Homo sapiens: one gene and its partners. The protein of the gene in region 5 interacts with the protein of the main gene of each other region in a pairwise test. Each region holds a gene or a part of one and is shown on either strand. Other genes may lie near its edges. The genes, in order: SLC35A3, C11orf24, CPNE3, TM4SF20, MEP1B, FAM3B and TM4SF5.

The links.
Region 1: the proteins of MEP1B (region 5) and SLC35A3 interact in a protein complementation assay, tested with the Homo sapiens proteins (one study listed by IntAct).
Region 2: the proteins of MEP1B (region 5) and C11orf24 interact in a protein complementation assay, tested with the Homo sapiens proteins (one study listed by IntAct).
Region 3: the proteins of MEP1B (region 5) and CPNE3 interact in a protein complementation assay, tested with the Homo sapiens proteins (one study listed by IntAct).
Region 4: the proteins of MEP1B (region 5) and TM4SF20 interact in a protein complementation assay, tested with the Homo sapiens proteins (one study listed by IntAct).
Region 6: the proteins of MEP1B (region 5) and FAM3B interact in a protein complementation assay, tested with the Homo sapiens proteins (one study listed by IntAct).
Region 7: the proteins of MEP1B (region 5) and TM4SF5 interact in a protein complementation assay, tested with the Homo sapiens proteins (one study listed by IntAct).

The regions. Positions count from the first base shown.
Region 1 is NC_000001.11:100,028,996-100,032,495, reverse strand, and holds part of SLC35A3 (UDP-N-acetylglucosamine transporter), read right to left. Parts: 3' UTR 1-3,500. UniProt on the Homo sapiens protein: Transports diphosphate-N-acetylglucosamine (UDP-GlcNAc) from the cytosol into the lumen of the Golgi apparatus, functioning as an antiporter that exchanges UDP-N-acetyl-alpha-D-glucosamine for UMP.
Region 2 is NC_000011.10:68,261,974-68,265,473, forward strand, and holds part of C11orf24 (uncharacterized protein C11orf24 isoform 1 precursor), read right to left. Parts: intron 1,894-3,500; 5' UTR 1,795-1,893; coding exon 1,719-1,794; intron 1,711-1,718; exon of another isoform or gene 1,600-1,710; intron 946-1,599; coding exon 1-945.
Region 3 is NC_000008.11:86,545,435-86,548,934, reverse strand, and holds part of CPNE3 (copine-3), read right to left. Parts: intron 2,341-3,500; coding exon 2,254-2,340; intron 1,225-2,253; coding exon 1,165-1,224; intron 635-1,164; coding exon 501-634; intron 1-500. UniProt on the Homo sapiens protein: Calcium-dependent phospholipid-binding protein that plays a role in ERBB2-mediated tumor cell migration in response to growth factor heregulin stimulation.
Region 4 is NC_000002.12:227,369,307-227,372,806, forward strand, and holds part of TM4SF20 (transmembrane 4 L6 family member 20), read right to left. Parts: intron 1,675-3,500; coding exon 1,609-1,674; intron 1-1,608. UniProt on the Homo sapiens protein: Polytopic transmembrane protein that inhibits regulated intramembrane proteolysis (RIP) of CREB3L1, inhibiting its activation and the induction of collagen synthesis.
Region 5 is NC_000018.10:32,217,472-32,220,904, reverse strand, and holds the end of MEP1B (meprin A subunit beta isoform 1 precursor), read right to left. Parts: intron 3,145-3,433; coding exon 2,940-3,144; intron 675-2,939; coding exon 660-674; 3' UTR 501-659; downstream 1-500. UniProt on the Homo sapiens protein: Membrane metallopeptidase that sheds many membrane-bound proteins. Exhibits a strong preference for acidic amino acids at the P1' position. Known substrates include: FGF19, VGFA, IL1B, IL18, procollagen I and III, E-cadherin, KLK7, gastrin, ADAM10, tenascin-C.
Region 6 is NC_000021.9:41,323,301-41,326,800, reverse strand, and holds part of FAM3B (protein FAM3B isoform a precursor), read right to left. Parts: intron 1-3,500. UniProt on the Homo sapiens protein: Induces apoptosis of alpha and beta cells in a dose- and time-dependent manner.
Region 7 is NC_000017.11:4,770,402-4,774,685, reverse strand, and holds the start of TM4SF5 (transmembrane 4 L6 family member 5), read right to left. Parts: upstream 2,801-4,284; 5' UTR 2,764-2,800; coding exon 2,587-2,763; intron 1-2,586. UniProt on the Homo sapiens protein: Acts as a lysosomal membrane arginine sensor.

The DNA of each region.
Region 1 (3,500 bases), on a different chromosome or scaffold from region 5:
AAAAAGAACTGTGACCGATTGGCTATAATATATTGAGTAATTTTTTTTAAATTCATGAAGACATGGTCTTTTTTTTAAAGAGGGATATTAGAGAAACAGGAGGGAAATATACTTTTTTATTTTAAAAAAGAATATAAACTAATAAATGTAGAAGAAATTTAGAGCACTAAAAAAAATTTATCACCATTTTGCACCCCAGTGTAATAAATGATTCAGTCAAGAATCATCAATTGATGCTAAAGGCATTGGGAAACAGAATATTCTCCTGGTGCTAAAACATTACTCCATAGATTACTAAGGGTGAACAAATGACCTTTACCACAGGGAGAACTTTACAATAACCTTTACAATGGGGTAGTCATCATCTTAACCAAATAATTACCAACATTAATAATGAGATTATCTGTGCCTTTTAATATGATACAATATAAAATCTGTGAAATATTTTTACCCAATACATTTAACCTGAAGGTAATCAAACCTATAGACTTGACTTCCAGTTCAAAGGACATGAAAGGAATAAAGGGAACAAATCAAACCACATAATAGGAGCAAAGTAACTTTGGTCCTTCAAAGAGTACTATCATGGGGAGAAAAGTCATTAGAGGTAGCATTTTCAGTCTCTTGGTATAAAAAAGCCATTGAGGGGCAGGTGGTGGTGCAGGAAGGGGACTTCAAGACCAAAGGAGACAATCAAATACAAAGCATTAACCTTGATTTTACCCTCGTTCCAAAACAAAAAAGCTATAAAAAATCATTTTTGAGACAACTGGGAATACAGTTGACTCTTGAACAACAGATTTGAACTGCATGGGTCCACTTATATGCAGATTTTTTTTCAGCCAAATGCAGATGGAAAACACAGTTATTTGCAGGATGTGAAACCCACCCATAGGGAGGGCTGACTTTTCTTATACGCGGTTTCCCCTTAAGGACTTGAGTGTGCCCAAATTTTGGTATACACGAGGTGGGGGTCCTGGAACCAATCCCCCACGTTTACAGAGGGGCAATTGTATTTGAATTTGAACTTAGATGAAGTGACCTGAATTAATTTAAATTTTCTTAGGTGTCATAATGGCACTGAGGTTAATTAAGAAGATGTCCATATCTTTAGGTCACGCATGCTGGAGTATGTAGGGGTAAAGTGTCCCAACAGAGATAAAGCTAGTGTGGCAAAATGTTAATAATGGTTGGATTTAGGTGGTATACCAATTTTTCAATTTTTTTGTATGCTGCAAAATGAAAAGCTGGAGAAAATTTAATTTTAAAAAAGGTTCTTTAACAATGCCGCATGTGTGAGTTCATGGAGGTAGCCCATGAGTTTTTTAAAGCTAAATTGGCACAATCTGTCATAGCATGATTGAAGCCATTAAAATGGCAATATTATAAAAACAAAACATTGAAAACAAAATGAAACTTGACACGAGGGAAATGGAGAAAAATAATATGAAATAATGGAAATTTGAGGCATTATGTGTATATAACATCCAAAATAAGTGTGGCAGGTTTTAAAATTCTAGAATTCATAGCAATATGACTGGAACAGTTATAAAATGAAACATGGGCACACATCTTTCATGATTTTCTATAATTCTATCATCACTCAGGAAATATTACCCTGCCTTGGCTATATTTAAAAGACCTATTGAAGCAGCATGCATATATTAAAAAAGCACTTAGCATCATCATTTTAAAATGCTGTATTTACTATCCAAGCAGAATAAAATAAAACTTTAGCCTAAAGGGAAAAACTTAATAAACCCTCAATTATTAGAAATCATGTTTGTACATGCAGTATCTTTTAAAAGACCAAACACACACACACACAGATTTTGTGTCTAAATCACACAAGTCTGATTTAGTACATTTAACTGAACCTCTTAAATACTCTACATTTAAAGCTGGGGTGTCCAATCTTTTGGCTTCCCTGGGTCACCCTTAAAGAAGAAGAATTGTCTTGGGCCACATATAAAATACAGTAACTAATAATAGCTGATGAGCTTTAAAAAATTGCAAAAAAATCTCATACTGTTTTAAGAAAGTTTACAAATTTGTGTTGAGCCACATTCAAAGCCATCCTGGGCTGCATGCAGCCTGCAGGCCGCGCGTTGGACAAGCTTAAAGTATATTTTAACGTGAATTTTCAGTGATTATCACTAAACACTGTAACAATATTCATTATTCTTTTAAACCTGCAGTGAGTTCTACCTTTAAAATGAGGAAAGTGTATATCTAAGATAAACTGTATATTTCCAAAAGAACACCATGTTATTTGTTTTAAACAAATTACCTCTAACATTTTAGAAATCCTAAATGAATGAATGAAAATAAATGCATTAAACGAAAAACACCTGATTCTCAGGTCCAAGGGAGGAAAATGTGATCCTAACACTAGTGAAGCCCTACTGTGAGCCAAAATAACAACTGGTATCAGGTTTTAGCTCTTCCTTATAATGGTGATAGGAATGCCTAATTTAAAATTAGTTCAAAATTGTTTATTAATATGCAGTACAGGTAAAAGGTTTATAAACCATGTTTTAAATTTGTAGTTTAAAATAGTCCAGCATTTATAAAGTTGTCATTAAACATAAGAAGTGAAAACTAAATGACAATACTATGCTCTCTCTCTCTCTATATATATATATATGTTCTTAACACAATATCTGATTATAAACATTTTTCCACACTAGATTCATGTTATGTTCAGAATCATTTGACAGATATTCTAAAATTAAAAATGACAATGTATAAATTAAAAGTCTCTGGGCTGGGTGTGATGGCTCATGCCTGTAATCCCAGCACTTTGGGAGGCCAAGGCCGGCAGATCACCTGAGGTCAGGAGTTCGAGACCAGCCTGGCCAACATGGTGAAAACCCGTCTCTACCAAAAATACAAAAATTAGTTGGGCGTGGTGGTGAGCACCAGTAATCCCAGCTACTTGGGAGGCTGAGGTAGGAGAATTGCTCAAACCCAGGAGGCGGAGGTTGCAGTGAGCAGAGATCGTGCCGCTGAACTCCAGCCTGAGTGACAGAGCGAGACTCCATCTCAAAAAAAAAAAAAAAAAAAAAATTAAAAGTCTCTGAAAAGAAGAATTGTCGTTGCTTGTATCATCCTCATCAATTCAGAAGGAAGTGTATAGAGATGAATGGTCTTTGTGTAGTAAGAAATTTGGCCCATCCAAAGAAAGTTCTGGTGTAAGTCTTTGGGAGTTCTCACTGATAGGAATGTCTTTATTATTCATTGTGGGTTCCTTAGACAACACTTGACAGTTTATGCTAACGAGATAACCTATGGTGAGGCCCTGAAGTCTTGATGTCAACCAGATCTCCAGGGAGGGGCAGATGTTGGAAAGAGAGGACAACTACATGGGCAAAAAAATCAACCAACCATGCCAACTAATAGAGCCTCTCTCAATAAAAATCTGGACACCAAAGCTTAGGTGAGCTTCCCTGAATGGCAATACTATGTGTGTACTGTCAAACATTGTGGTCAGGAGTAGA
Region 2 (3,500 bases), on a different chromosome or scaffold from region 5:
ATGTGCCTGGCCCAGCGGCCCTCTGGGTATATGGCATGGGGCTTGGCTGTGTCGTGGGGGACATGGCCTCCATCTCAGGGATTGGGCTGGTGTGAGGTACTGGCACTGGGCTGGCAGTTGGCTCCCTGGCTTGTGCCTTGGTGGTGGTCACCACTGTGGGGGTGGGGGCGGGCTCTGGGGTTGTGTTTGAGGGCATGGGTGTGGATTTATTTGTTGTGTTAACCACAGGCTGGTCCACTGACACCTGGCTAATGGGACCTTGTGCTTGGGGACGCATAGGGGGTACAGGGCTTGCCGCGGTGTCACTGGGCATGTGCTTGGAAGGACTTGGACGAGTGCTCATGGGGCTGCTTGTGTTTGCTGTGGTCGCTACAGTCTGAGCACGTGTGGCCAATGTGGCCAGGGTTGCTGTTCTTGGCAACGCGCTGCTCTTTGGCACTTGTGCGAGGGCTGTGCTGAGAGATGGATGCCCAGTGGCGGTAGTGGACGGGGTCCGCCCTGTGGAAGTGGACGTGGGCGCGGGGAGTGCAAGTGTCATGGGAGTGCTGGAGGCCGCAGTCATACTGGAGGCTGCAGTCGTGGGAGCAATGGAGGCCACAGTTGTACTGGAGGCTGCAGTCGTGGGAGCACTGGAGGCCACAGTCATACTGGAGGCCGCAGTCGTAATGGAGGCCGCAGTCGTACTGGAGGCCACAGCCGTGGGAGCAATGGAGGTCACACCATCAGCTGCACCTCCTGAAGTTGCTGGTTCACTCACATCTGTCCTGCTTGTGTCCTCTGTTGTGACTTCCATAGAGTTGAGGTGGGCTGCCGAAGTCCCTTTGGTCAATGTGACAGGAGAAGCTGCTGCCATGGTTACATCCTCAGACGTTTTATTATCAACTGTTTCCACAGATGCATTCCTCTTGACTAATCCCTTCCACATTTTGTTAGGGACAAAGTTGCCTTAAAGTCAGAAAAAGGAGAAAAAGAGAGACAATCATGTTCAATCCTGCACAGGGGGATTGCTCAGGGATCGGCTTCCACCCAGGCCTGTGGGGCCCCCTCCTCAGCCCAGCCAGAGTCGGGGGAGGTGATGTGCGAACATGCTTCCTCCCCATCTCTCTTCCCACTGTTGGCATGCAGCTCATTGAAAAAGCCCTTGTCAATTTGATTTTAAAACTCCTTTGCCCTCTATGAACCCCCTGCCCATTGAAGGCTTCAGACCTTCACTATTTGATCCAATTCCCAAAACATCAGAGTAAAAGTCTCACACAACAGGTGTGATTCACCATTAAAAGCCCACTGAACGCACACCCAGGTTTACAAAGCAGATAAACTGCACAGGTATTCACATCATAAAAGAACGCTTGGCTTTGTGAAAGGATTCACTGCAGGAATTCTTGGAAATGAATGGCACAGAGTGGGAACGCAGTTAAAGATCTGATGTATGAAGGAATCAATTCCCCAGTGAAGATTCAATTTAGAGATGACATCAAATCTTGCAGGCCAAGCGAGCAAACCTTTCAGGGCTCAGCTGCCTGGTCCTGCTAGGGGCTCTTTGCCCACCATGGCCCTGGAGAAGGAAGGTTGGCCTGACAACCCTTCCCTGTGCGGCACCTGGGAGGGCTGCGGTTCCTGACGCGTTGGCCTGGGTTTGCAGATGCTGCTTTCAAGGGCTCAGCATGCTTTGTGGCCACCGTGGGCCCATCCAGCAGTCACACAGCTTTCTCACTTACGTGGATCGTTGGATGCCGCATGGCTTTCAGATAAGGACAAGGAGAAAATCCAAATGAGCACAAGAGCTGTCCACATCTTGTGGGTGAGCTGGGAGCAAGGCTGGGCGGTCCCCGAGGCTCCCAGCCAGCCAGCTCCTCAGGCTGCTAATGGTTCCCTCCTGCTTGGCCAAGGGATCTGTGGTCAAGAAAGCACGCTGGTCAGAAGGCGTCTGGCCAGCAACACACAGCCTTGCCTGAGAGCACCTGCTGTGGAGGGCTCTGGCAGGGTCCAAGGTGCAGACTGAGCCAAGTGCTGAGACCAGGGCCTGGTGCCCAGGAAGACCTCAGCCATGGTATAGTAATGAACTGCCCTGTGCTTTGCATCTGATCACTTCTTGACCCGATTTCACTATGAATCTCAACCTGCAAAAGTTCCCATTCTCCCATCCTAGAGTTCAGAGTTTAAAGGAGCAGGAGAGAGGGCTAAGACTTGGTTGTGTTCATAGGGTGAAGGCCTTCTCATCACCAAGACTGGTCAAGTCTTCCTCCTCAGCTTCCCCCATAGTCTGCAGAGTACAAATCAAGCCTAATGCACCCCATGTGCACCCTGTGACAGGTGACTGTGCCTTTCACATGGGAGATACTACTTAACCATTCATCCATCAATCCACCCATTCATCCATCCACCTGCCCGCCCACCCATCCATCCACCCACTATTCTATCCATCTACTCATCTGTCCATCCATCCATCCACTCACCCATCCATCCATCCACTTACCCACTTACCCATCTATCCATCCATCCATCCATCCACCCACCCATCCATCCACCCACTCATCCATCCACCCACTCATCCATCCATCCATCCATCCATCCATCCATCCACCCACTATTCTATCCATCTACTCACCTGTCCATCCATAAGTCCATCCATCCATCCATCCATCCATCCACCCATCCATCCACCCACTCATCCATCCATCCACCCACCATATCCTATCCATCTGTTCATCTATCCATCCATCCACCCACCCACCCATCCATGCACCCAGCCATCCTTTCATCCAATATTTACTTAGTGCTTTCTCATGTGCCAGGCAGTACACTTAGGACAAAAAGGTGAAAAACACACAAGCTCTTCAGGGACCTGCAGTCCATGGGAGACACAGAAAAGAGGTCATTGCAGGCTGGCACAAGCATTGTGCAGGGTGTGACTCAGTGCTGGGAAGCAAGGAGGAGACAGTATGCGGGCAGGCCTTGAAGAGTGAGGTAGGCTGATACTCTGGGCAGAAGCCCCAAGGGTGGCTGGGCCCCAGAGGACAGGGTGCCACAGGGGCCCAGAGGACACAGTTCAGCCAGTGGTGGTGTGGTCGGCATGCCAAGGAAGGCTTCCTGGGAAAGCGATGCCTGGGCCGCATTCTGAAAGCTGGGTGGGGGTGGGCAGGCAGGTGGAGAGGGAGCAGCAGATGACAACAGCAGGGTCAGAGGCAAGGAAGAGCGTGGTGAGGCGGGAATTAGTCTGGAGAGCGTGAGGAGGCCCCATGAGCCATGTGGCAGTTTAGATTTCACAGTAGGGGGATGCGAGTCCCTCCGGGGCCTTAGACAAGAACAGAAAGGTGCTTTTAGCAAGAGGGGAGGCAGGGGCAGCCAGTGAGGGGCAGCGATCCAGGCACCTGATACAGAGGCTCTCTCAATGAATGAAGGCATGAGTGAATGAGTGACTGACCCACTTCAGAGACTGCAGTGGTCCCCACAGCCGGCCCAAGTTGCTGTAAAGCAAAGCCCTCTCCTTCATTCTAATG
Region 3 (3,500 bases), on a different chromosome or scaffold from region 5:
AAATAATTTGGCAACTGCCAAGGACATAGATATGCTAAGAAATAGTTTTTATTTCTTAACATAAATAGTATTTAGTATTTATAAATAGTATTTAGTATTTAACATAAATAATATTTAGTATTTATAAACAGTATTTATAAAACATGTCATCTGGGCTTCAATCACTCATACAACTTATGCCTAATGAATAAGCCCCAAGGAAACCAGACTAAAGAAACAAGAGCCTTGCTGACATTCAGTCAGGAAGTAAGTAGCAAACTATATGTAATATAAAGCAAAGTACATGCCATATATGATAACTAATCACAGAAAGATATTAGAGATCTAAGGTAAACAGCAAGATTGCCACAAGGAGAAAAATAGAAGATAAGACGGGGGGATTTTAGGGAGAAAGCATCATCAACCTACCACCTATATCAGAGTGCTAGCCGATGAAACAAACTACCCTTTCTGGGGAATTGTGAAAACATGTATTTTAGTTTTTCCAAAGTCATACTCACGCATCATAATCTTGAATGACCAGTCCCACAGACCAGAGAGCAGTCAAATACTCATTAACGCCATTGGGGCTGATGTAATGAAGGGAGTCTGGAGACCTTGGGTCACCATTGGAGCCAGTGAAGTCCACTCCCACCTGCCAAATAACAATTGCAGCCCTTAGTAAGGAGAAGGCAGGGACACCTGTGCTTGATGTCCAGGAAAACTTCAAGAGATGGGATACAATCATGCATCCTGGCGCCTACTTCCTAACAAATGCCTACCACTATTTCCATAGACAATTAAACAAGTAAAGCCTAAATGTGAAACAACCTGATGCTTCTACTTTTCTAGATGGCTTAAATAATGAATTATTGTATCCATTACTTAAGCTTAAGGGTTGTCTTTTATAAGGTTGTCTCACTAATGCTTTCTAGTCCTTAAATTAGTTCAGGATAACCACTAGTTTGTAGGTTTGTATACATCTGCTTTCTCTCAGGAGGAAGAGATCTCATCAACAAAACTGAGAGCTTCATGATGAGCCCAGACAACCTGCCTGAGGACTCTAAGAGGACTATGCTAAACAGATTGTGAAAATTTCATTACAAAGTCAGTTTTGCAGTGAAAGAAAATATACTGCAACATGGAGGAAAAAGCCTATGCTGAAAAATTCAGTGTGTTACTTACAGTAAAATTCAGCTGACATCCTCCCATTATATAGTCAAGGAATGTGCATTCTACTGTAATCTAAAAATAAGAGAAAACTTAAAATTACAACTCTCCTACTATACAAGAGAAGCAAAAAACTCTTTGGCATATATTTTTAAAAGTCTGTAAATTGAACAGGACATGATATAAACATGGAAATTACCCCTGCATTCAGGTTTAAGATACCCCTTCCCCTATGTGCCATGAATCTGTAAAATTCTGCTTCAAGATAATTGTAGCAATGTTAAGATTAGAATACTAATGGCGAAAGATGAAATACACTCATTTTAAGTTTTAAGATATTAGTAATGAATCCAATATGTTGAGGGCTTTAAAAAGCATAGCAGTCAACATTTTAAAAAACAAAAACTCCATTCCACTTGTTCACCCTAAAAAATCTTGGCTTTTCCCCTTTACTCATAACATTTTATATTGAAAGTATGAAGAGGATAAATGCATTGGGTAAGGTCATTTCCACTAAAGAGCTGAGAAAATACTATGATGCTTTATATTTCCTAAGATAACGAAAAACTTATCCTTGTCCTTTGCAAATAAGTTGTCAAACCTTGGAAACAGGTTACTTGATTTTTTTGTTCTTCCCTACTTGATTCTTTTTGCTAAAGGTGACCAGATGCTCATGTGATTTTCAACTGCCTGAAATTCAAGTATTTGTTTAATATAAACATACTAACAGGAGAACTTGAAATATAATCTCATTATATTATAAGTAGCCAAGGCTTGGGTCGGATGCGGTGGCTCACACCTGTAATCCCAGCACTTTGGGAGGCCAAGGTGGGTGGATCACAAGGTCAGGAGTTCAAGACCAGCCTGGCCAACATGGTGAAACCCTGTCTCCACTAAAAATACAAAAATTAGCCAGGTGTAGTGGTGGGTGCCTGTAATCCCAGCTACCTGGGAGGCTGAGGCAGAGAATTGCTTGAACCCAGGAGGCAGAGGTTGCAGTGAGCCGAGATCACACCACTGCGCTCCAGCCTGGGCAACAGAGCGAGGCTCCAGCTCAAAAAGAATAAATAAATAAATAAAAATAAGTAGCCAAGGCCAACGGACCTCACACTGTTTCACACTGATAACACCTGAATTCTTGTAGCTTTTTTTCTTTTGCCTTTTTTTCTCATTTATGCATTCAAATTCAACCTGTAGGAAGAGAAGACAAAAATGTTACTTTTTATTAGCAATATTAGAAATGCCAATGTGACTTTAAATGAATGACTTTTTTTCCTTTAGAATCAAACTACCTACTGATGTAGGTCTGTTGCAAAATATAACTCTGAAACAATTACATAATATGTTAAGTATGTGGAATATTTATCAGGTAAATTTCCAACAATTAAGGCACTCCTAAAATTGCATACCTTTCAAAATATTTCTCCCAAATAAATTTTACCTCTGCAGGTAATTTCCTTGCAAATGTTCCAAGGCATAATCTTTTTTCTCTTTGCTGCATATTTTACCATAGAGTTGGGCCCTATGATATAACATGGTATAATAAAGGAAATAAAATATTACTCCTAGCTGTTACCAACATAAAGAACGAAAATATGCTGCAAAGAAAAGAAAAAAAAATAACATCATAAAACAAATATATGAAGCCCAACTCTATGGTAAAATATGCATCAAAGATCTTCTCTTTCCACTGGGAATACATGTTAAAAATTGATCTAACACCTCCTCTTGTTTATATTTCCTTCCCCCAAAAGAATGATCTTCCTTCCCCTTCCTATCCCCCTATCCATCTTTAGGGCTTGGCTCAAGTTGTTCTCCTCTGTAACTTCCACTGCTACTCTAGTCTTCTCTGATCTCTATCTACCTCTTTAAATTTCTACAACTATATGAAATTTAGTTACATACTCTGTGTTATTTTCAAGTGTCTCATTTAATTTTTTCTTCACAGTGACATTATAATCACCTCCAACTTATACCTTCAAATTCTCACTGTCTTGCCTAATAATAATATAAGAGATATTCAATAAATGCTTGATAAGTCACCTCTTCTGGTTAACACAAAGCCACTTATGTACTTCAGACAGTCATTACTAGTTTTCCAAGAATCAAACACTAAAAAATACACGTGGTATAATACAATGATGTGAAACAAAATTATGTTAAACAAATTCTTTGATGGTTCAGGATCTTGCTGGAGTCTCAGTCACAATCATAAGTATTAATTGTTGAGTATTAGAAATTAAAGAAAGGAAAAACAATAAAAAATTATTATATATTAGAGCTAAAGAAATTCCACAAACCGAATTCTCATTGAAAAAGGGCTAGATTACTTCACTTATTCATTTATACCT
Region 4 (3,500 bases), on a different chromosome or scaffold from region 5:
TAACCCCTGGCCAAATTATCTTGAGTGCTTTTGAAAAATACTGATGCAGAATCTCTGGCGGCCACCCAGGCACTGGTATTTTTTTAAATCTCTTTAGATAATTCTAATATCCCCATCTGTCTTTTTTTTTTTTTTTTTTGAGAGAGTCTTACTCATCTGTTGCCCAGGCTGAAGTGCAGTGATGTGATCTCGGCTCACTGAAACCTTTGCCTCCTGGGTTCAAGAGATTCTCCTGCATCAACCTTCTGAGTATCTGGGATTACAGGCATGGGCCACCGTGCCCAGCTAATTTTTGTATTTTTAGTAGAGACGGGGTTTCACCATGTTGGCCAGGCTGGTCTTGAATTCTAGACCTCAAGTGATCCTCCCACCTCAGCCTCCCAAAGTGCTGTGAGCCACCGTGCCCAGCCTAATGTTCCCATCCATCTGAGAACCATTGCTCTGAAAGCTCAAGCTCAGCCAAGCAGATTTACTGTGACTGCTTGCTGTCAATCTACCCCTTCCACAGGGAATTGTGAGAGTCCTTATGTTGCTTAATAGCCATGTTCATGGTATAAAGATCATGAATTGTGGGGTGCTCCAGTGGGTTTGGATAAAAATCCACTTACTAGTGTGCTACACTGGCAAATTATTTACTTTCTCTGAGCGTCCATTCCTTCGTCAATCAAACACACTTCTTACTTTTTCCCACTTAAGGGTTTTGAGAGAATTAAATGAAACAGCATCTCTGAAAGTGTTCTGAGCAGAGTGACACTCCGGTTAATGAATCTTAATTTACTTTTAACTTCGTTACGACTTTATACATAGTGGGTAGGCATTAAATGTTTTGGGGGAAAAAAACCTGGCAGCTCCTTTAATTTAACTGGATAAAGGCAATTGTCATTCTAATCCTAGCAAACCAGTCTGTCATTGCATGAGAGAACTGAGTACATTTTCCCTGAGTATTTTATATACGCCACAAAAATATCACACCCGAGTATTATGAAATTGATTGCAGCTGTGGGCGTGACTTACCAATCTCCTTTCTTTGAAAACCTTTAGATTGAGGAAAGGACAATCCACGGAAGACTGAGGAAGGGACAGAAGGCCAACTCTAAATGTTTGTGGGACAAAAAAACCCGTCTCACTTTTTCTACTTCTATATAATCATCCTAAATAGCATGTTTCAGGCCAGGCGCAGTGGCTCAAACCTGTAATCCCAGCACTTTGGGAGGCCGAGGCGAGCAGATCACTCGAGGTCAGGAGTTTGAGACCAGCCTGACCAACATGTTGAAACCCCCATCTCTACTAAAAATACAAAAATTAGCTGGGCGTGATGGTGTGCACCTGTAGTCCCAGCTATTCAGGAGGCTGAGGCAGGAGAATTGCTTGATCCCGGGAGGCAGAAGTTTCAGTGAACCGAGATCGCACCACTGCACTCCAGTCTCAGCAACAGAGCAAGACCCTGTCTCTAAATAAATAAATAAAAATAGCATGTTTCTAAGGCTGTGGCTCTGTCAGTGGAGCCCCACTGTGATTCGGTAGATGCGAGTGACTCAGTGTGGCTTTGCTTAGGTAGCAATAACTGTTCATGCACTTCTGCTTCCACGCCGACTGCTTCATACTTACTCCAGTTCTGTTGTTGCAGCACGCTCTTTTTCTTGCTGTCAAGGACATTGTTGTTGCTGGAATGGCCTGGAAATGACATCAACAGGAAAGATGAGTATTATAACTTCTCATCAGAAGAAAAAATAGTAATCTTCACCTTCCGTTTACCACCAGTTGTGGGAAATCAAGGCTCAAAGAACAAAAAGGGAATTTGGCAATATCCGTGGTTTTGTGAACCTTGTCATCCCAGTTTCAACCAGAAAGATTAAAAGTGGCGGCGGGAACAGGGGAATTCAAGACAGGAGTTTTGAAGTCTTCTATCTACATTCTTAGTTCACTCTGAGTCATCTGCAGAGAATTGGATTTTAAATAGATTAGGATGACTTATTTATACATTATTTTTGGAAGAAATGTTTCTGAAAGAATTGGCTGCATCATCCAAACTCTGTTGTTTGTTTGTTTAAAGAGTAGGGGTCTCACTCTCTTACCCAGGCCAGAGTGCAGTGATACGAGCATAGCTCACTGTAGCCTTGAACTCCTGGGCTCAAATAATCCTCCTGCCTTAGCCTCCTGAGTAGCTAGGACCACAGGTGTAGACCACCACACCTGGCTAATTTTAAAAATATTTTTGTAGAAGCAAGATCTCACTCTGTTGCCCAGACTGGTCCTGAACTCCTGGCCTCAAGAAAACCTCCTGCCAAGAAAACTAAAGATGTGAGCCATTACGCCTGGCCCGATTTCCCAGAAATTGTATGGATTATTCTGGCAAACCTGCAGAAAAGAAATTGATGGTTTTGTTTGCCTGGCAGTTGGGAACAAATCATTCTGTCACCACCCACTCCCACTAGCCTTTCTTTTCCCAGGATCCCGGCTATCTTGCTGGTTTCCCCAAACTTATATTTGAGAATTATTTTTGGTTCCACGTTCTCCTTTCTCTTCCTATATCCATGATATGTAATGATCTCACTTTATATATTGATGCTCAGAAATCTATAGATCGCATTCTGCCTTCAGGGAAATACACGTTGCCAAGGAAAGCTGTAAGAAAGAACACCATATTCTCAGGACTTGGGTTTCAATTTTTAGTATATCTAGGCAGCAGCTACGACTAGAAATTCTTACTGGAAGGAGTTTTGTATCATTGAAGGGTGGAATGTAATTATTTCCTTCCGCTTGAGAAATTTTAGGCGTAGGTTTTTTTGCCATCTCAGCACAGCTGCCCTTGAGTGGTTTTTCTCTCTCCTTCTACTCTCATTCTCTAACATTTTCCCGAGCTCTGGCGAATGCCAGACTCTGTTACAGGCACTTTACACGCCTTAGTTTATTCCATCCTCATAATAATCCTATGAGGTAGGTGCTATTATTATTCCCATTTTACCAATGAGAAAACTGAGGCATAGAAAGGACAAATTACTCAAATTGTCCTTCTACTTTCTTGGTAGAAGGGTTGGGATTCAAAACTAGTCATTTGGCTGGGCGCGGTGGCTCATGTCTGTAATCCCAGCACTTTAGGAGGCCGAGGTGGGTGGATCACGAGGTCAGGAGATCGAGACCAGCCTGGCCAACATGAGGAAACCCCGTCTCTACTAAAAATACAAAAATTAGCTGGGCGAGGTGGTGCACACCTGTAGCCCCAGCTACTCAGGAAGCTGAGGCAGAATTACTTGAACCTGGGAGACAGAGGTTGCAGTTAGCTGAGATCATGTGACTGCACTCCGGCCTGGCGACAGAGCGAGACTCTATCTCAAAAAAACAAACAACAACAACAAAAAAAGCTAGTCATTTGGGGTGCAGAGCCCACATAGTTTTTTGTTTTGTTTTGTTTTTTTGAGACAGGGTCTCACTCTGTCACCCAGGCTGAAGTGCGGTGGCATGATCACGGTTCACTGCAGCCTCAACACCCAGGGCTCAAG
Region 5 (3,433 bases):
GAGATCCTCAGTAACCTATTTGAGATCCTCAGTAATTTTTAAAGTGTAAAGATTCCTGAGATCCAAAACTTGGAGACTTGCCACTCAAAGAGTGAAAGGTTTTCTTGCTGATTACAGTCGTATGCTCAAACAAATTCTAAACCAAGCTCATGTACCAAAGGGATTATATAAGAAAACAAGAGTAGCCAGTTTTGGAGAAGAATGTATATTGACAGAGAGTGGGGAGCTGTCTCATTACCCTTCCCAATGCTGGGAAAGGATGGCACTGAAACTGCTGTGATTCTGCATGGATGATCATTCCCATTGGGTGTTTCTAGTGGGTTTCTAAGGAATCACTTGTGAGGACACCACACTTGGCCCCCATATGGAAGGATCAGTAATTTGAAAAGCCATCTCTAACTGTTGCTCTCCCTTTTTTCTAGACAATATTATACTTCCAGAAGAGCCTGAATTGCTTTTCTCTCATTTAAAAGAAGGAAACACAAACAGCATTTCACCAATTTGACTTTGACCAAAATAGTGATTTATAATATTTCCAGCTATTTACAGAAAAATATCCACTTTTAGAAGAATGAGGTGGCTGTAATATCACTTAGGCGAAATCCATGATGAAGAATCCTTTTTAATTTCATTAGCTGGCCATATTGTCGAGTTAATCTTCAAAAAGCATGCTGCTAAAAGGGGAAAGAACAATTGATGATTTAATTTCTAAATTTAAAAACTGCTATTTAAATGAATCATAATAAAATGATCTGGTCTTTAAATGAAGTCCCCATCAGCAGTCTCCTGGCCTCCCTCCTAGCTGGCAATGGCTCCTGCTCCTGGTCTCCATTTCGAGCCCTGGCTTTTCGGGCCCACATTATTCAGATGCTAAAACATTAGGGTGAACACATACATTCGCCTCAGAAAAAAAGGTCATTCTGATTTAAGATCTAAACGACATCTGGGAGATCTGTTACCAGTGAATTAGCTGTAGAAATGCCTAGCCTAAGATAATGTAAGTCAACTGCCTTGTCCTTAGGAATGTGTTTAAATGACCCAGAAACAAAACAGCTCTGTTGTAATATTATGGAGTGTGTGTGTGTGTGTGTGTGCATGTGTGTTTCCACTTACTATCCTTACCATGTCTCTAATACTGTCATGGTTTCCCTGCTTTATTGACTTAGCTTCCTAGCTTCCTTCTTTCTCTTCTCTTTGGTTTTGTCATTTTTCTTTAACTCCTTCCAGTTTTTACTTGCTAAGCAAGTTTATACTTGCTTATAACAGCTGTTACACTACCCATTCATTGTCAGGGAAATATCCTGGCAATCCCATCCACCCAGTTAACTTGTCCCCTCCTGCCCTTCTACTCTTCCACCTTCCATGCACCAACTCCTGGCTCATCCCAATGGCCCAGGAGACCGAACTTGCAGGCACAGCTGCCATCAGGTTGACCTACCAGGCCAAGTATTCACTGATCTTCCCCTTTTATTTTGAGTCATAAAATAAGCTGAAAGTTGTCTTAAAACAAAACAACCTGTTTATATTTTAAATACTTTTCTAATAATTTTGTGAAGTAATTGATCTATTGCCTTATTATTAGCATTAAACATCTTCCTGATGTTGAGGAAATAGGACAACAGCCTACGATAATACAACGATTTGCTTTCAGTTCATTATCATTGTTCATGTTTTGACTGACTTGATACCAGGCTGTCCCCTTTAAAAACTCGTAGCTTTAAATATAGTATGTCTTGAATAATCGTTTTTCTTAAGAAAATGTACTCTTGCTTTAGCCAATTGCAGTATTTTTATTTTTGGAGATATTCTAATTGGGCATTTTTTCTGACTGGCTTCAGTAGCAATTTTCAGAGACTCCAATTGGAATGAAATAGAAATGGAAGAATTTTAGGGCTTCACTTTTAAGTAATGCTCAGATTTTATGCCACTTTCTCTGTGCTTCTTTGAGAGGAATATGAATCTGCATGTAAAACTCTGTACTCTACTGCTGGAGTATGTAGTGGATGCTAGGGAACTGCTGCTTTGTCCTGCCCTTTGAATGAAGGCTGTTATGCAAGAAATGCCCTCCCCCAAAGGCCGTTGCCTTGCCCAATTTTATGCCCCCTCTTTGAGGGCAGCCCCCTTCCAGTGATGGGAGTACAAAGGCCTGGCCCCCTCCCTCGATTCAGGACGTGCCTAAGAGGGAGTCATCCCCACTCCAGAGCTCCCTGAAGGATGGGCTGAGGCCTCAGCTGCAACCACATCACATTCCAACCTCACCCTCTGCCCAGGCCAGCTCCCTCAGCCTATTATACGTGTTCCAGGAGCCCTCCCCAATAAACCTCCTGCGTACAAATATCCATCTCAGAGTCAGCTTCCCAAGGGACCCACTGGAAACAGGATCGTTTCAGGAGTCTATTAGCATTCTAGAGATTTTTTGAGGCAAGACTTTAAATCCTTTACTTGAAAACTTGCCTTAGAATTAGTTATTCCACATGAAGCCAGAATGAACTGGAACCTTCTTTAATGAAAAAGCTTCCCCAAACATGCCTGCATCCCCTTCCTATGGCCTCAGCTCACCACCACTACAAGACCTTTAGAACAAAAACACTTGCAGGCCACCTCTTCCCTTTACCAGGAAGGTTTGAACTTTCAGGCAAAATCAGTTGTGCCTTTCAGGTCACAGACCACCCCACACTCCAGGAAAAAAACCCACACACACAACTGTACACAATGTTGTATACAATTCCAGGAGGATAATGAACCTCCATAAATCCCAGTTTAAGAATCGTTGATTTACAGTGAAAGTAATAGGAACTTTTATAATCTGAAATCAGTTGTCCCAGCATAGGAAACAGAGAGAAGAAGGCAAGAACCAAAGTATATAAAAAATGTCCTAGTTCCTCTCCATAAGATTTCACCAATAGGTTATGAATAATCAAACATCAGCCTCAACTTACATTTTGCGGAGTCAAATTTGGTCGATTTGAGCTCATCCTTTCACGATATTTCTTCCTGGTGCAATAGACACTGACAAGGGTGATGATCAGCATCAAGGCAAACACAGCAACAGTAGATGAAACAGCAATGACTATGGTGTCTCGGGTGGAGCCTCTCTTTTCACACCTTTCTCCCATGTACCACCAGTCTTCCCCTGACTGGCACCTGCATGTTGAGAGCATGACTCAGAGTTATTAGTTGATATCTAACTCCAGAAATCTTCACAGTTAAAGATGTGGATCACCTTTAGTCTATTTGATCACCAATAGGTCATTGCTATATGAAACTATTTTACCCACTCTGGACTGGAGAGAGACTAGCACCTAGAGCACAGGTATAAACAATGGAAAGAAAAAATGGAATTCCTCCTAATCTGATACTAAAACAGTATCTCCAAGTTAGGAAAGGCCGATAGCACAGATAACAGAGAAAGTTTAGTTCTCAGTGTCCCATG
Region 6 (3,500 bases), on a different chromosome or scaffold from region 5:
GCTGGGGCTCAGGGTACACAGGCCTACTACACAGGCCTGCCCAGCACTCCCACCCTTGGACCCAGGACACTCACCCAAAGGGCTGGTGCTGGCGTCTCCAGCGGGGCCATTGTGGGGGTCCCATAGGGATGCTCTCCCCAGGGACTTCCCCTACGGGATCGGCAGCAGAACGAGCAGGTCCCCACGCCAGGGCCTGGCAGCCCGTCAGCCATGAGCATGGCCTCCTCCCCAGCTTCTAGACTTGCAGCCCCTGGCGCTCTGCAAAGTGAGAGTCCTGTTTCGTGTGGACATGCGCAGGAGGGCTTTCCAGAAGGGAGGTGTTTGATGTGCCTCATATCCTCCAGGGAGTATGTGGCTTTAGTGACTATGGGTGACACACAGATGGGCATTTGTGTTTCCTCACAGGGCCTGGGAGTGGGCAGGGAACCCATGTGTCATTTAAAAAAAGAGTCAGTAGCTTTCTGAGTCCCCCATCCGTTTCCCAGAAGCACAATGTGTCACCACGTGAATGAAGAAAGAAGACCATGTTCCTAACTCAGTGTGGGATTGGAGGGTGGACACAGCTCCTGGGAAAACACAGCTCTTTCCAAACCCTGCCTGGAGAACCACATCTAGGTCTTCAGTGCTTTTCCTGAAATTCCTTCCCCCAAACAATCAAAAGGTAAAGTTCATGTGGCTTACGTAGAAGCCAGTGTCCTAGCCAGGGAGAACGGCGGACCTTCTATTTAGTCTCCTGTTTCTTATGCCTCATGAAAAGCTGGTTTGTTTAAGACTGAAAGCCTCCAGCAGCAACACCATTCCCTAGGATGCAGTCAGCCTTCTGCTATCAGTTTCAGTCTGAGAAATTATTCTCTTGCTGAGGAAAATCCACCTGGTTCCTCATCCTCACGAGCAGCTCCTGGTTTATAATACAATAGCTGCTTCACCCAGCTCTGAAAGTAGCGACAGCAATGAGAACCCAGCTATAGAGCTCGCACAGCCTTGCGTCCGGACTCTCCTGGTGGCTTTCCCCAGATATGCTGTAACCACAGGAATATGTAGACTGGGACTTGGAAGGGTGGAGAGGAGGTTTTATGAAATTTAGATACAAATCACAAAGAACCTTAGATTTAAAAGAAACCATAGTGACCGTTTAGTTCCAGGATGATCAAATTTGGCTCTGTATGAAGCCAAGTTTTAAAACAAATTAAAATAAATACAGGTTCTTGGCTTCCACCCTGGACCTAGGGAGCTTTGAATTTCCCAGAGTGGGGTCCAGGAATCTGTCTTTTAAAAATACTTCCTGATTTGGGAACTATGATCTCATTTTAACTCCTATAAATGAGGAAGATTATTCCAGAGGGTAGGAGATCCATGCAAAGTCACTAGAAATATTGAGTCATGAAATAAGATCCTGACAATATAGACCAGGCAAACAAAGAAGGTGGCTGTTTGCATATGGCATTTTGACCATTTCAACTACCTCATTGTTCTATAGGAGATTAAAAGTCCAGTCCGCAAAAACCAAAGACCAGAAGCCATCAAAGAGTGTTTCTCTGCTAATCAATGCTCATGATTTATTAGGTGCCTCTGAGTACAGTGAAGGTAGTATGGCTGGGTGTGCATTTGGCACCCAAATGCTTCTTTCACCCCTTCCCAATTGGAGTTGTATTCCAAATGCATATATATGTTTTTTGTTTTGTTTTCTTTTTGTTTTTGTTTTTGAGAAGGAGTCTCTGCCACTCAGGCTGGAATGCAGTGGCACAATCTTGGCTGACTGCAACCTCCACCTACTGGGTTCAAGCTATTCTCCTGCCTCAGCCTCCCGAGTAGCTGGGATTACAGGCACCTGCAACCATGTCCAGCTAATTTTTGTATTTTTAGTAGAGACAGGGTTTCACCACGTTGGCCAAGCTGGTCTGGAACTCTTGACCTCAGGTGATGTGCCCGCCTCGGCCTCCCAAAGTGCTGCGATTATAGGTGTGAGCCACTGCGCCAGGCCCCAAATGCATATTTTTGTTCAACATACGCTGCACATTAATTTTCTTTGTTCAGTTTCCTAACATTATGATTTGGCTTTTAAGTTCTTCTCTAGTAGACTCTGAGGTTCTTAGAAGTAAAGGATGAACCTTAAAACACGTGCACTCAGACCACGGCCCAGAGAGGGATGCTGTTACTAAATATACCTGCTGAATTAATAAATAAATGGACTTTCACAGTAGGCATTTCCTTCGGCGATAATTCAGTCTGTCCCAGAATGTGTATTGTAAAATAAGATTGAAACCAGGAAGTAAAGAACATAGTGATCAGTGTGACTTACAGATAATCTATGTATAAAGCACAAGGACCTCGTTTTCCTTGTTTCTTCCCTGTTCCTGTGACTTTACTGGCCACTGGATGAATCCCTTTGGTCCTGGCCATACTCTCGCCCTTGTGTAACCACAGCCTGCCCAGCTGTGGCTGATCATGGCCTTGCAGGAATGAGGGCCTGGGGTATCAGAGCTTCTACTGTTTCAAGAGATGCTCTAACATGGAGTTTTATGGGAGATCTCTTGATTTTGAAATACTTGTCCATATTTTATGTGTTTTGCTTTTAGACAAATCTTGTCTCTGACAGGTCTGTCTCTGGGCCCCCAGTTTGCAACTCATGTGCTGTGGACTGAATGTGTCCCCCTGAAATTCATATGTTGGAACCTAATCCCCAGAGTGCTGGTGTTAGGAGGTGGGGCCTTTGGCAGATGAAGCCTTCAGGAATGGGAGTAGTGCCCTTATAAAAGGAGCTTCAGAGACCTCGTTTGCCAGAAGGAGCCATCCATGAAGCAGAATGCAGGTCTCCACCAGACATGAAATCTGCGGGTACCTTGATCTTGAACTTCCCAGCCTCCAACACTGTCAGAAATAAATGCGTTGTTTATAAGGCCCCCAGTCTATGGTGTTCTCTTACAGTAATCTGGGTAGACTAAGTCATGATGCTCCCAAACTGGCACACAGCCCTCAGAACCCAGCATGGCCCACTCCCTTGCTTCACTGAGATGCTTCTCAATTGTCACCTCCTTCTCAGAGGCTTTCCCCACCCATCCTCTCTCGAATCTCATTTGTTCATGCGTTAAGCTGTCACCTCCCCTCACTAGGGTATCAGTGCCAAAGGGGCAGGGACCTCGTGGGCTTGTCCTCCGTCTCTCCTTAGCTCCTGGACATGCCCAGCACACAGCAGGCTCTCAGAAAACCCACCTTGATTGTGGGGAAGGACAGAAAGCAGCCGCCCTACAGAGAGCTGGGCCTTTCCTAAGCTGATGGTTGAGGCCGTGTGTTCACCGACATACAATGTCTGCCCTTTCTTTCACATCTACTCAATTACTAGCTTTTGCTTCCCAAGACTTTACAGAAGATTTTCCAACAGCTCTTCAGTCCGACAGAAACCTTAAAATGATTCGGGATCTCAGAACCTGGACCCTCCTGTGCTTCCCAGGGGAGGAAGCCAAGATCTGGGCGGAAAGAGCACAGTTCAAGGTCTGGCTGCA
Region 7 (4,284 bases), on a different chromosome or scaffold from region 5:
TCCGCCTGCCTCAGCCTCCCAAAGTGCTGGGATTACAGGCATGAGCCACTGCGCCCGGCCGATGGTACCTACTTCTATCTGAAATTGCCTTGCCTAGTTCTATACTTCATTCAATGACTTTTTTATTTTTTATTTTCTTGAGACAAGGTCTTGCTCTGTTGCCCAGGCTGGAGTGCAGTGGCGCGTGGTCATAGCTCACTGCAATCTTTCATTTCTGGGCCCAAACTAGGACTACAGGCACACGCTGCCATTCCATGACTATTAATTGGGTGTCTGTTTAGTGCAAGGTGCTGGTCTAGCACTGGGTACATAGTGGCCAACAAAGCAGGCAGTGCTTGCTCTCGTGGGACTTCCAGCCTTGCTTCCGTGAGACTGGTGGCCTTACCAAAGGGAACACAAGCTTCAGGGAGAGCAGGAACCTGTCTGTGTCCCTGTGATATACAGCAGTGCTTATTTATTTGTTTATTTATGTATGAGATGGAGTCTTGCTCTGTCGCCCAGGCTGGAGCACAATGGCGCAATCTCGCCTCACTGCAACCTCTGCCTCCCGGGTTCTCCTGCCTCAGTCTCCCGAGTAGCTGGGATTACAGGCGCCCGCCACTATGCCTGGCTAATTTTTGTATATTTCTTTAAGTAGAGACGGGGTTTCACCATGTTGGCCAGGCTGGTCTTGAACTCCTGACCTCAGGTGATTGGCCCGCCTCGGCCTCCCAAAGTGTTGGGATTACAGGCGTAAGCCACCATGCCCACCGGGTGGTGCTTCTTGAGAGTGACTCTGGGCACAGAGGTGGAGGGAAGGCAGCTGTGAATGCATATTTGGGGAAGGCAGACTCAGGGAGCTCCGCTGAAGCAAGCTGGTTAGATGGGGCAGAGGAGTGTGGGGAGACAGGGGTGGTTCAGGTTGCAGAGGGAGCACCCCGTGACAATGGCTAAGTGTGTCAGCCTGAGAGGAGTGTGACTCTCAAAGAGAGTTGAGTTTAGAGCGATAGAGTAGAGTACAGCAGCCAAGAATCCATGCAGGAGGAGGGAGTAGAAGAAAAGATACTAGAGAGTAAGAGGGGATTGTTGGTTAAAGGAGAGGTATCCTCTTTTAGCAAATAGAGGTGTGACCAGCGAGGTGTGACCAGCAAAAGGGACCAAGGGGAGCTCTCCCCTGGAGAATGTCATTAGCCAACTGTCCTGAGAAGTGGGGAACTGTGCTGGGTAGATCTTTTGTCTTTATCGCATGAAGATATTAAACGAGGTTGACCATCCCAAAGTTTCCCTGAATGGGTGGAGAGTTGGAAGATGGGGGTTAGTAAATTGGGGAAATCTGTGTCTCCTTTTCCTCCACTTCTGACAGATCCTAGTCTTGGCCAGGCGTGGTGGCTCACATCTATAATTCTAGCACTTTGGGAGGCTGAGGCAGGAGGATCACTTGAATCCAGGAGTTTGAGACCAGTCTGGGCAACACAGAGATACTCCGTCTCTACAAAAAATGTAAGCTGGGGCGGTGGCTCACATCTGTAATCCCAGCACTTTGGGAGGCCGAGGGGGGCGGATCACCTGAGGTCAGGAGTTCGAGACCAGCCTAGCCAACGTGGCGAAACCCTGTCTCTACTGAAAATGCAAAAATTAGCTGGGTGTGGTGGCACGTGACCGTAATCCCAGCTACTCAGGAGGCTGAGGCAGGAGAATTGCTTAAACCCAGGAGACAGAGGTTGCAGTGAACGGAGATGGCGCCACTGCACTCCAGCCTGGGCGACAGAGCGAGACTCCGTCTCAAAAAAATAATAATAATAAAAATAAATAAAATATTTAAAAGTTAGCTGGGTGTGGTGATGCCCACCTGTGGTTCCAGCTGCTCGGAGGCTGAGGTGGGAGGACTGCTTGGGCCCAGGAGGTTGGGGCTACAGTGAGCCATGTTCGCACCACCACACTCCAGCCTGGGCAACAGAGAGAGACCCTGTCTCAAAAAAAAAAAAAAACAAAAAACAAACACAAAAACCAACCCCCACCTCCGCCCCTGGCAAATAGATTCTCATCTCCCGGAAGACGACTTGAGGGCATCCTCCCTGCCATACTGACCTAAGTTCTGAGTTTATCCTTAGCAGTCCGCACAGATTGGGCTTCCAGAAATGTGGGGTGAGAGTGAATGGACGTGGAGGCAAGCGAGGGTGACTGATCCGTGAGGGCAGTCCCTGGCTCTGGGTAATTTCACTGCGCCCCACCCTCATGCCTGTTATTATCCTGCCCCGATGACGTCTCTGACAACCAGCTGCTCCTTCTGCCTCGACCATTGTAGTGAGGTTTTCCCAGCATCTGCTCAACAGTGGGGACAGGGAGGACAGGCAGGACATGCTCCCTACCCGGTAGGGGAGCTCTTTAGAGCAGTGAGGCTCTCGTCCTTTCTGTGCCCCACAGACATTCAGCTTGGGACCCTGGGGCTCCTCCAGGACTGACTCCAGAGGGCTGCTAGCCCCCACGAAGCCATTGCCATCCTCTCCCAAGCAACCATTCTTATTCCTCTCTCCCTCTCCCTCCTGTTCAGAACCCCTTAGGTGGCACCCAGCCAGCTGGCCCGGGCTCCCCTGCCAGCCTTCTCACCATTAGGCCCCCGCCAATGAAGCCGCCCATGAGCCAGACTTGCAAGCTGAGATGGTTGGTGTTGGTCCAGGAGGTCTCCCCATTAGGTACCAGCAGGAGGGCGTTGGCCACAATGCAGACGAGGCAGAGGGTAATGAGGGAGAGCCCCACACAGCGGGCACATTTTCCCGTACACATGGTGAGGTGTCAGGAAGGACAGGCGGTGAGTGAAAGTAAGCCAGTGGTTCCCAGGTCCAGAGGAAAACAAGCCTGGAGCACGGAGCAAAGTTCAGACAGAGGCGTGGCAGAAACTGGCAGGATCAGAATGATAAGGGAGAGAGGCACAGGATGTGGGCCCTGAGGAGGCAGAGGCGGAGGAGCTGCAGCCCTGAGGTGAAGGGAGGATGTGGTGCTGGACAAGGTGGGGGCTATGGACACATTACCCTGGGTTAGTGCCTTCCTGTTTTTTCTGCACAGCTCCACAGCCCCTCTGTTGGTTCCATACCTGCTTTGCAACTTAGCCAAGCCCCTTCATGTCTCTTAAGTCTCAGTTGCCACTTGTGTCTGGGCACGGTGGCTCACACCTGTAATCCCAGCACTTTGGGAGGCCGAGGAGGGTGGATCACCTGAGGTCAGGAGTTTGAGACCAGCCTGGCCAACGTGGTGAAACCCCGTCACTACTAAAAATGCAAAAGTTATCTGTGCATGGTGGCGGGCACCTGTAATCCCAGCTATTCGAGAGGCTGAAGCAGGAGGATCACTTGAACCTGGAAGGTGGAGGTTGCAGTGAGCTGAGATTGTGCCATTGCACTCCAGCCTGGGTGACAAGAGTGAAACTCTGTCTCGAAAAATAAATAAATAAGTAAATAAAGTGACAAGAATGAAACTCTGTCTCAAAAAGTAAATAAATAAATAAATAAATAAATAGATAAATAAATAAGTGATGCCACTTGCCTTGTGGGCTACTTGTGAGGATTAAATGGGACAACCTGAGAAGTATTTTGTAAACTAGGAAGCACAGAGCAGATGTGTGGTGGCCTCTTCGTTTCTGCCAGCCTCTCAGGCAGCATTCTTCCCAGGGAGAAATTAAAGAGGTGATTGTGGGCTCTTATTGTCCTTGCATTTCGTCTTCCTGGTATTTGATTATTGATGTCTCCTCCTCTTGAGGCCACTGCCTGTCTCTCAGGGTGGGCTCGGGACCTAGGCCTCATTGATGAGAGCGTTCTATCCTGCTAGCCTCGGTGTTTGATTTAGCAACAGCCATGCGATCTGAGCCAACTCTGTGAGAATCAGCTTCTGCCATTTTTCCATTCTGAGGTCAAAGAAGTTCTGTTTTTGTTGGGGTGCTGCAGTTTCCTTGATAACTTCTTTTTTTTTTGAGACGGAGTCTCACTCTGCCGCCCAGGCTGGAGAGCAGTGGCGTGATCTTGGCTCACTGCAACCTCCGCCTCCTGGGTTCAAGCGATTCTCCTGCCTCAGCCTCCCAAGTAGCTGGGATTACAGGCGCCCACCACCACACCCAGCTAATTTTTGTATTTTTAGTAGAGACGGGGTTTCACCATGTTGGCCAGGCTGGTCTCAAACTCCTCACCTCAAATGATCCACCTGCCTCAGCCTCCCAAAGTGCTGGGATTACAAGCATGAGCCAAGCCACCCAGTCGACTTCTTTTTTTTTTAATTAAAAAAATGTTTTTGAGACCAGGGTCTCCCTTTGTTGCC